Homo sapiens: one gene and its partner. The protein of the gene in region 2 interacts with the protein of the main gene of each other region in a pairwise test. Each region holds a gene or a part of one and is shown on either strand. Other genes may lie near its edges. The genes, in order: CALCOCO1 and DUSP13B.

The links.
Region 1: the proteins of DUSP13B (region 2) and CALCOCO1 interact in binary tests that used the Homo sapiens proteins (3 or more experiments, as listed by UniProt).

What each region holds. Positions count from the first base shown.
Region 1 is NC_000012.12:53,717,305-53,724,604, forward strand, and holds part of CALCOCO1 (calcium-binding and coiled-coil domain-containing protein 1), read right to left. Parts: intron 6,480-7,300; coding exon 6,289-6,479; intron 4,880-6,288; coding exon 4,721-4,879; intron 4,312-4,720; coding exon 4,163-4,311; intron 2,526-4,162; coding exon 2,435-2,525; intron 1-2,434. UniProt on the Homo sapiens protein: Functions as a coactivator for aryl hydrocarbon and nuclear receptors (NR). Recruited to promoters through its contact with the N-terminal basic helix-loop-helix-Per-Arnt-Sim (PAS) domain of transcription factors or coactivators, such as NCOA2.
Region 2 is NC_000010.11:75,093,770-75,096,646, forward strand, and holds the end of DUSP13B (dual specificity protein phosphatase 13B), read right to left. Parts: intron 2,027-2,877; coding exon 1,806-2,026; intron 1,110-1,805; coding exon 907-1,109; 3' UTR 667-906; downstream 1-666. UniProt on the Homo sapiens protein: Dual specificity phosphatase that dephosphorylates MAPK8/JNK and MAPK14/p38, but not MAPK1/ERK2, in vitro. Exhibits intrinsic phosphatase activity towards both phospho-seryl/threonyl and -tyrosyl residues, with similar specific activities in vitro.

The DNA of each region.
Region 1 (7,300 bases), on a different chromosome or scaffold from region 2:
GATCCTCCTGCCTTCACCTCCCAAAATGTTGGGATTACAGGCGTGGGCCACTACACCTGGCCATAAGTACAGTACACGTCACCCCTGCTTGAAAAATCATCAAAGCCTTTCACGCTTGTGGAATAAAAATGAAGCTCAAGATCCACCACAGTCTAACCTAGGCCTTATCTCAAACACTTCACCCGCACATTCAACTGCCCTGAGTGTTCTGGCCTTTAAGCCTTTGCTCACGTCTTTCTCTGTTCCTAGAATAGCCTCACACTCATCTCTGTCTACTCATATTCTACCTATTCTCACTGCTGAGCAAAGGGTTTTTTAACAATCTTCCACATAAACCCAGGGTACTGAAGAAGGGATTTAGGAGTTCTGCAGATACTTGATTTGAATGTCTTCTAAATTATTAACAATTATGTTAAAAAAAGAAAAACAACACAAGGCCAGGTGCAGTGGCTCATGCCTGCAATCTCGGCATGATTTGGGAGGCCGAGGTGGGCGGATCACCTGAGGTCAGAAGTTCCAGACCAGCCTGGCCAACATGGTGAAACCCCATCTCTACTAAAAATACAAAAAATTAGCTGGGCGTGGTGGCGGGTGCCTGTAATCCCAGCTACTCAGGAGGCTGAGACAGAAGAATCTCTTGAACCCGGAAGGCAGAAGTTGCAGTGAGCCGAGATCGCGCCACTGCACTCCAGCCTGGGCAACAAGATGAAACTCCGTCTCAAAACAAACAAACAAAACAAATAAAACCCATAAAATCACAAGTTAACACACTGGAGATCACCAATTGACATATGTTTCCAGGTTAATTCATTTTTTTGCAAAGCTCAGAATAGTTTCTACTGTATTTTCTATTGAATTGAAGAGTAAACTGAGTTGCAAGGTGGACAGTTTAAAAATTGTTATTTGCACCTACTTGTGTGTGACTCAAGGTGTTCTTGATATTGTACAACCAAAATAAAATACGGAAATACATTAGTTGCTGAGGCTGGCAGAACAGTCTTCGATAGCCTCTCATTTCAAAGTTTGGTATGCCTCAAAATTACCTAAGTGCTTTCATTACCTTTTAAGTAAAGGTTATACATTCAAATTTATAAAAATAAATTTATAGTAATAAAACATTGTTTTTGTTTATTCAGTGAGATTCCACACAAGATTAAAAACTTTATTGGTGGGAGGAGAGGAAAGGGTTCTGCTAAAAAGGTTTGAAAGTACTAGGCCCCACACCCCACCCCTTTTTTTTCTGAGACAGAATCTTGCTCTGTCACCCAGGCTGAAGTTCAGGGGTGCGATCACAGCACACTGCAGCCTTGACCTCCTGGGCTCAAGCAATCCTTCCACCTCAGCTTCCTGAGTAGCTGGGACTACAGGTGCATGCCACCATGCCTGGCTAATTTTTAAAATTTTTTGTAGAGATGGGGTCTCACTACGTTGCCCAGGCTGGTTTTGAACCCCTGGGCTTGAACAATCCTCTCGCCTTGGCCTCCCAAAGTGTTATGATCACAGGTGTGAGCTACCACGCCCAGCCATGGCCCTCCCTTTTTTTTTTTTTTTTTTTTTTTTTGGCACAGAGTCTCACTCTGTTGCCCAGGCTGGAGAGCCGTAGTGTGATCTAGGCTCACTGCAATTTCTGCCTCCCGGGTTCAAGTGATTCTCCTGCCTCAGCCTCCTGAGTAGCTGGGATTACAGGCACCTGACACCACACCTGGCTAATTTTTGTATTTTTAGTAGAGATGGGGTTTCACCATGTTGGCCAGGCTGGTCTTGAACTGACCTCAGGGGATCCGCCTGCCTCTGCCTCCCAAAGTGCTGGGATTACAGGCATGAGCCACTGTGCCTGGCCTCCACACCCATTTTAAAAAGACTTTTCTAATGTCTCTAACAAGATGTGTACTCATACACCTCCCTGGAGCTCCACAATACTTTATTAGATTTCTCTTGAGGCCAGGCGCAGTGGCTCACACCTGTAATCCCAGCAATTTGGGAAGCTGAGGTGGGTGGATCACTTGAGGTCAAGAGTTCGAGACCAGCCTGCCCAACATGGTGAAACCCTGTCTCTACTAAAAATACAAAAGTTAGCTGGGCATGGTGGCACATGGCTGTAATCCCCGCTGCTCAGGTAACTGAGACGTGAGAGTTGCTTGAACCCAGGAGGCAGAGGTTGCACTGAGCTAAGATCGTACCACTGCACTTCAGCACAGGAGACAAAGTAAGACTCTGTCTCCAAAAAACAAACAAAAAAAATTTCTCTTGTGACACTCTTATATTCCACTTTTCCACTCTGACTAATCCTGATTTAGGTATATGTCTTATGTTCCCTAGTAGAGTGCACACAATGTCTTCTTTACATTTTTATTCCCTTTGGTGTCTGGCTCTCGAGAGGGAATCAAACACTGGCTGGACAATGGAGAAAGCAAATCAACTCTGAGCCCCTTACCTCACTTTGCTCCTTGTCTGCTTGTACTTCTTTCAGTTGCCCAAGGAGCTTCTCTTGTTCCCGAGTCAGGGCCTTCACTGTGTCTCTAAGCCTGTGATTGGTGGGATGACATGTCAGACAATCTGCTCCACCCAGAGAAGGAATGGACTCAGGCCTCTGTCTTGTGCTCTGCTGCTGCTGCTCTAGGCCCAGAGCTCCATTTCACTCTGGGATGCATAAATCCCCAAGCCAGCTGATCCAGTTCTAAGCCCCAGGAAACCAAGATTCCAGGTTCTAGAGAACAATTTAGACAGAAATAGTTTTTCTTATCTTTTTGTGTAATATTTTAAGGAATGTTTTGCTGATGGCTCCCATTGTTTTCACTCAATCAAGAGACTAGAATCTAGTCTTTTTGAGACAAGGGCAGTCATTATTGATTATAAACTTTTGATCTAGACCAGAAGTTGGCAGACTCTTTCTGTAAAGGGCCTGATAGTAAAGATTTTATGCTTTGCAGTCCATGTGGTCTCTGTGGCAACTACTCAACTCTGCCATTGTAGTGCAGGACCATCCATTGACAGTATGTAAACGAATGAGCATGATGTTTCAATAAAACTTGAACACAGATTTGAAGTTCATACAACTTTCACATGTCACAAAATATTCTTCTTTTAATTTGTTCTTAACCATTAAAAGATGTAAAAACTATTCTTACCTGTGGGATATACAACAGGTGGCAGGCTAGATTTGGCTTGTGGGCCATAGTTGTTGACCTCTGGTCTAGATAGCCCCTAATCTTTTCCAGATGCTCAATCTGACCACTGCTTTTCTAACCTATGACTTAGAATGTAGACATCTAATATCTCCCTAGGGTGAGACTAACATATCCTGAAGAAGCCTCTCAGACGAACTCACTTATTACTTTGGGCCTTGGATAGAATGCCTCTTTCTTTTAAACAGTTTTTTAAAATATCACACCTACCAGTAGTAAATGAAACATAATTTTGTCATTTAATGAAATAAGGAACTAGAGTGTTTAAACTGGTGAAAATTTGAAGGATGGACATGGGAGGTGGTGGTTAATATTTATGCTACTTGGTAGAGAAAACAATTTTCTGGAAGAAGAAAGAAATTTATTCTGTGTGGCTCCAGAGGTCTCAGGACCCCCTGGTAAGTTATAGGAGAGGAGAGTTTGGCTCAATACAAGAGATACAAAAATGACAGCTGTCAAATGTTAAAGAGGCTGCCTCCTGAGGGTGACCTCTTACATACCCTCATACATATCTTACAATCCCAGTGCTAAGAGTTTATGATTTGCATCTTTTTTTTCCAGGGCAGAGATTCCATAACATTCCTGGATCACCAGTTATAATGTTTCTTAATAGTAAGAACACAGTCTAATCTTATCTTTCCTGTGGCCACATCTGAAATCCATCCTCTCTTATCTTGCACTGACTTCCATCCATTCTCTTCTTCCAAATCCTCCACTCCTAGCTCTTGCTCAGCTTTTGCTGTACAATAAGTGGTAACTATGATTATTTCTGAAGTGGAGGAATACAGAATAGCATTTGGAAAGATGGTAGAGAGCTCGGCAGAAAAGGGTATCCCCAGTAACTAGCTTGAGTGAGGGTGAGAGGGAAAGAGAAAGCGTGTGAGGCAGACAGCAGGTCTGCTTGCCTGAGAGAGGGGGCTGGAGTGCGGGGGTCATGGAAGGGAGAGGAAGTGACGGGGTCAGTGGACTCCCCTCACCTGTCCAGCTCCACTTCCTTCGTCAGCACTTTCTCACTGATGGTCTGGATGTCATCCTCTAGCTCCAGGATGCGTGCCACATGGTCTCCCTGTTGCCGGCTCAGGATGTCCCTCTCTTCTGTGATCTCCCCATGGGACCGGGAAATCCCCTGAAATTAAGTTTCCCCCAGAAGAAAAGGGAGGTTGGGACTCATCTCTCAAGTGGTGGAACAAAGGCTTAGGAAGAGCACACCAGGGTCTGACTGCTTCCACCTGGCTATCACATTGCCTTCCTTGAAAAAGAAACTGTAAGGGAACATTCCCTTACCTATCAACGTGGCCACCTCCACCTTACCCCAGCATTCCTATGTTCAAAGAACTGAGTCTCATTACACGTTTGGAACATGTCTCTTGTCACATCAAGTTTAATCCCAGCCACTACCCCTTAAACCTATTTCCTTGATGCCAGAACCATTGTAAAAGCCCACTAACATCTCTCCTTCACCCTCTTCACTGGGTTCAGATTTTGGATGCTGGGTGAGCAGCCAGGCCCTGTCCCCTACCTGGCCCAGCTCCCACCTTGTACTGTTCCATCAGCTCCGTGTGCTCCTGCCTGGCAGTTGCCAGAGCCCTCTCGAGCTCCTGCACTCGGCTCCTCAGCTCTGTCACCTGTCCCTCCAGCTGTAGCTTCAGCTGCATCAGGTCATTCCGTTCTTGCTGGCTCTCATCGAGCTGGTTCTACAGGCAGCAGAAGGAGAAGGGGAGTGTGCTGGTGGAGTACCCCTTCTAAGGTCCCATCCTCACCACTCTCCAGGTGCATTTTGGGTTTGGGAAGTTACATAGCTTTGGGTTATAAAGAGGTGAGGAAGGGGATGCTCAGTGTGCTACCGAATCCCGTCCACCACCCAGTCAGATGCACCAGCTCATGGCACTCTGAATTGCCCATCTCTCTTACCCCTCCCCACTCTAGGCCTGGCCCTTTCCTCATCCAGCAATTGCAGGAATCCCTCATGTGGCACAAGTCAATGAACACAGACACAAGGGATGGGTCCCCTAATTTTACCCTATCTGCTCTGGAGTTGGACAGACTTGGGTTCAAATCTTCAGTGCAATTTTTACTAGCTATGTGATTTTTTTTAAAGATAGGGTCTCACTGTGTTGCCCAGGCTGGAGTGCAGTGGCTAGCCATAGGTGCAACCATAGCATACCATACCTCAAACTCCTGGCCTCAAGCCATCCTTCCACCTCAGTGTCTCCCCCAGTAGCTGGGACTACAGATGCATGCCACTACACCCAGCTAGCTATGTGATTTTGAACAAGCTTCTTAACTTCTCTAAGTCTCTGTGTCCTCATCTGTAACATGATCCCTTAGTCTGAATTGTTGTAAGGCTCAAATGAGAATCACGATTGTGAAACCGCAACAGAGAGTAGGAGCTCACACATCTTTCACTTACGTGAGATATAAACATCTTCCTGGGTGACAGAGCAAGGCTGTCTCAAAAAAAAAAAAAAAAAAGAAAAGAAAAGAAAAGAAAAACCCAAAAAACAAACAAAAAAACCCCAAACAGTATCATTTCAACATGTAGTCAAAATAAAAATTATTGAAGTCTTTTACATTCTCTTTAAAAAATACTAAGTCTTCAAAATCTGGAGTATATTTTACCCTTATAGTACATCTCAGTTTGGATTAATTGCATTTGAAGTGCTCAAGAGCCATATATAGTTAAGAGCCTTTGGTATTGGACAGTACAGGTCTGGGGCCTTGCCTATCTGCTCTCACTCCCCACTCGTCCTAGAAGCAGGTCCTGTGCTCCCCTTTCTCTGAATGTTCCCTGGAGTAGCCTCTCTCCACCCTTTGATCTTCCTCTAGGGCATAGGGCAGGATGCAGTGCATGGAGAAGGAAGGCTGCAAAAGTTCTTATGAAATCCTGAGTTACACTGGCCTGTGGGTGGTCTCCTTTCCTGCCTTACATGTTCGTGTATGTCTATGTTAGACTGAGACTCTCCTGGAGGCAGGACTTTGTCTAACTTTCAACGAGGTCTTTAGTTGGCGCCACAGATGAGGGGAGGGTAAGGTGGGAAGGGTCCTCTTGCAATGCTGTCTCCCACTCCCTTGTCTGGGAATAACTCTGTTGCTCTTTTCTCACCTGTAACACAGTTGCCTTGGGGACAACCAGCAGGATGTCAGAGCCCCCATCAGCCTCCTCCAGGGTCACCAGTTCATCCATGGGCCTTGGCTCTCGGAACTGGAAAGGGGGGCTCTGCCCACACACCTGGCCCTGGCGGTTCACATATCGGAACTGGTAGAGCTGAGCTCCTGGTTTGGGCAGGTAGCTGGCTGTGGGAAGAAGAATGGACCCAGGACCCCAATAATCCACTGTCCTTGGCCCCAGCCCCTTGCTCGGTGTTCCATATACTGTTTCTTCTCTTCTCCACCTCCCACAGGCCATACTCTTCTCCCTCCTTTCTGCCTGTCCCTCTCCTTCCTTTCTTTCCCAAACCCACTGCCCCTCTATCATAATCATAATAATGCTAGTTACCATGTAGTGAGTGCGTACCATGTACCAGACACTGTGGTAACACTTTTTATTTTATTTTATCTTGAGACAGAGTCTTGCTCCATCGCCCAGGCTGGAGTGCAGTGGCGCGATCTTGGCTTGTTGCAACCTCTGCCTCCCGGGTTCAAGAGATTCTCCTGCCTCAGCCTTGTGAGTAGCTGGGACTACAGGCATGCACCACCACGCCTGGCCTGCAGCTTTCATTTTAAATCCTCGTAATGTCCCTATAAGCCAGGCATCCCCTTTTACTGTTAAGATAACCGACACAGGGAGGTTATGTAATTTGCCCAAGGCCAAACAGCTTGTAAGTGTTAGAGGTGAGATTTGAACCCAGGTCTTTCCCTCTTCTCACCACATAATTCTACCTTTCCCTCTTCCTTACTCCCCCATTTTTCCTTCTTTGGGTAGGACAGGGGACTAGATGCCCTCTGAAGTTCCTTCTGTTTCTATGTCCCTGATTCTGCGATAATCCCGTGATTCTCTATCCGCTGAGCGCTGTTGGATATATTCTCATTATATTTATTTTCGTTTATTTTTCCTTGTCCTTTGTGCCTAACTTTTAATGTTTCTGAGCCCACTACCTTCTTTCAAACCTCCACTC
Region 2 (2,877 bases):
AACAGCAGCCAGAGAGGTAGAGGAAAGCTGCCCATTTAAACCCCATAAATACCTTGGGTTTTTATGATGTATTTTACAGGTGAGGAACCTGGGAGGGGGCCTTTCTTTATTGTTTTATTTTATGTTGTGCCAAGATAAGAACTAAGAAACTCAGAGCTATTTTGTTCCATCATATAACTGTCCTTTGCCTAGTATTTCTGGTATGTCTCCTTCCCAACCCCATCATCCTCTTGTTTAATGCTTTAATTTGTTAGGAGTCTAATTTTAAGCAGTCCGTTTGAAAGCAGAGTGCTAGTGAAAAGACTGACTGGTTTCAAGAGATGCTACTAGTGGACAGTGAATTTTGATATTTAGCCTTGGGTAGGATGGGCATGGAGATAATGGTGATGCATTGAACTTGGGTCTTTATCAGACAACCTAACTATTGGGTGAGGGTATGAGGAGGACAAGATGAGGAGGACAAGATGAGGACGAGGTTATCTAATCCTCACACTTGTACCCCCAAACCTTCCTCCTGCACCCAAGGCAGATATCACGAATTATTCCCACCTGTACTCCTCCCCGAGGCTGCCATCCCACTGAATCAGAGTTGGCAAGCCATCTGGAACCTTGTGACCATCCCGAGAGTAAGTCCTTGCCCCACAGACCACCAAAAGATCACCTGTCTTTATGACGATGAATATTTTATTATAGAGATGGACTGAACTCACTTTTGCATAAAGAATCTCTGAATTGGGTCAGGGAAATCCACCCGCTAAGAGGTCACCACCCAGCTATCCCTGCCTCTGCCTCAGCCCCCACTTGCTGTTTACATCTCAGGGTCACTAGAAACAGCAGAGCCTGCTGTTCCCAGGGCCAGGCTGGTGGGGTTGGGCCAAGGGTCAGGGATCCTGGCTGCCTGCCAGATCAGAACCGCCCCGTCTCCCGCCCCAGTCGGTTGTCCAGAACCTGGAGCTGCCGGAGGAAGCCTGAGTTAGGGCAGATATTGCGGTGGGCCTGCACCGTCTGGATGGCCTCTACCAGCGTCATGTTCTCACAGATCATGAGGAAGGCCAGGACAAGTGTGGCAGAGCGGCTTACCCCCATGGCACAGTGTACCAGCACGCGGCCTGTAGGGAGAACCAACTTAGCATCAGCTACCTGCCCTTGAACCACCCACCCCTTTGGGAAGAAGAGACACCCATGGCCATCCTCTACAGTATCCTGGAATACTGACACTGTCTACTCTGTCAAATGGGGCAACTGAAGCCCAAAGAGAGGAGGCTGGCTCAAAGTCACATAGCAAGTTAGAGGCAGGGTTTAGGTTAGCAGCCGGGATTTCCTTCTTCCAGTCCAGGTGCTTCCTCAGGCATCCTTTGCAACTCTGGGCCAGGGGAAGGGGGTTTACTGAATTCCTGAGGTCACTGGGTTTGCATCAGATTATAGGGGGTGTCCATCTACCTCCCTTTCCCCCGAGTTCTGCCCTCTCGACTGCCCCTGCAGCTCTATGCCAAGGCCTCATCTTAGAGGAACCCGCTCAAGAGCTTCACTGGGTCCTATACCTTCTGTCCAGTGCCTGGCCTCTTATGGAGGGATGTGGTGATGCTGATGACCACACTGCATCTTAGTTATGTCTGCAATTGCTAGCCTCCAGGGTGTCCCTGAAGGGGACACTCACTGAATGGTAGTAGCTATTTTCCCTATGGAGTGGGAGGGTTACTGAAAGGGTTTGTCTCTCTGGACTCCCACCCACCAGTGCTACTGGAATAATGGAGAGTCCTAAAGCACACCCTCCACCCTCCACCATGCCTGATCCAGAAGTGCACCTTGGGGAACACTGAGGGCAGCTCGGATGTATCGAGCAACAGGCAGAAAGTAGACACTGAGGTCGAAGAAGGGGTTGTCGTCCGCCTCGATGCCATAGTACTCCAGGGACATTCCACGGTAGAATTTGGCACCTGTGTCCACCTGGAACTTGCCTGCAGCGGCATTCACAACGTGGGTGATTCCCAGCTGGATCAGCTTGCTCTTGTCCCGGGCTGCGTACCTGGAGGAGAGGGCACAAGGGGTTAGGAGAGTGGAGGTAGATCTCACTGTGGCAGCTCTGGCTGGGTTGAAGTTTGCAAACACCCCCGCCCACCACCCACCAAGGGTAGAGACAAGAGCCTGCAAATTGGCCCAGGGTGAAGGGGCTCCTCCTGTTGGAGTTTAAGACTCCTTTTCGGGCTGGGTGCGGTGGCTCACGCCTATAATCCCAGCACTTTGGGAGACCGAGGTGGGCAGATCACTTGAGGTCAGGAGTTTGAGACCAGCCTGGCCAACATGGTGACACCCCATCTCTACTAAAAATACAAAAATTAGCCAGGCATGGTGGTGGGCACCTGTAGTCCCAGCTACTCAGAAGACTGAGTCAGGAGAATCACTTAAACCCAGGAGGCGGAGGTTGCAGTGAGCCAAGATTATGCCACTGCACTCTAGCCTGGGCAACAGAGCTAGACTCCATCTCAAAAAAACAACAACAACAACAAAAAATAGACTCCTTTTCAGGCCAGGCACTGTGGCTTATGCCTATAATCCCAACACTTTGGGAGACTAAGGCGGGAGGATTCATTGAGCTCAGGAGTTCGAGACCAGCCTGGGCAACATGGCAAAACCTTATCTCTACAAACAATGCAAAAATTAGCCAGGCATGGTGGCATATGCCAGTAGTCCCAGCTACTTGGGAGGCTGAGGTGGGAGAATCACCTGAGCCTGGGAGGTTGAGGCTGCAGTGAGTGGAGATTGCACTACTATACTCCAGCCTGGGTGGCACAGTGAGACCCCGCCTCAAAAAAAAAAAAAAAAAGAAAAATTAGCTAGGTGTGGTTGTGCAAACCTGTATTCCCAGCTACTTGAGAG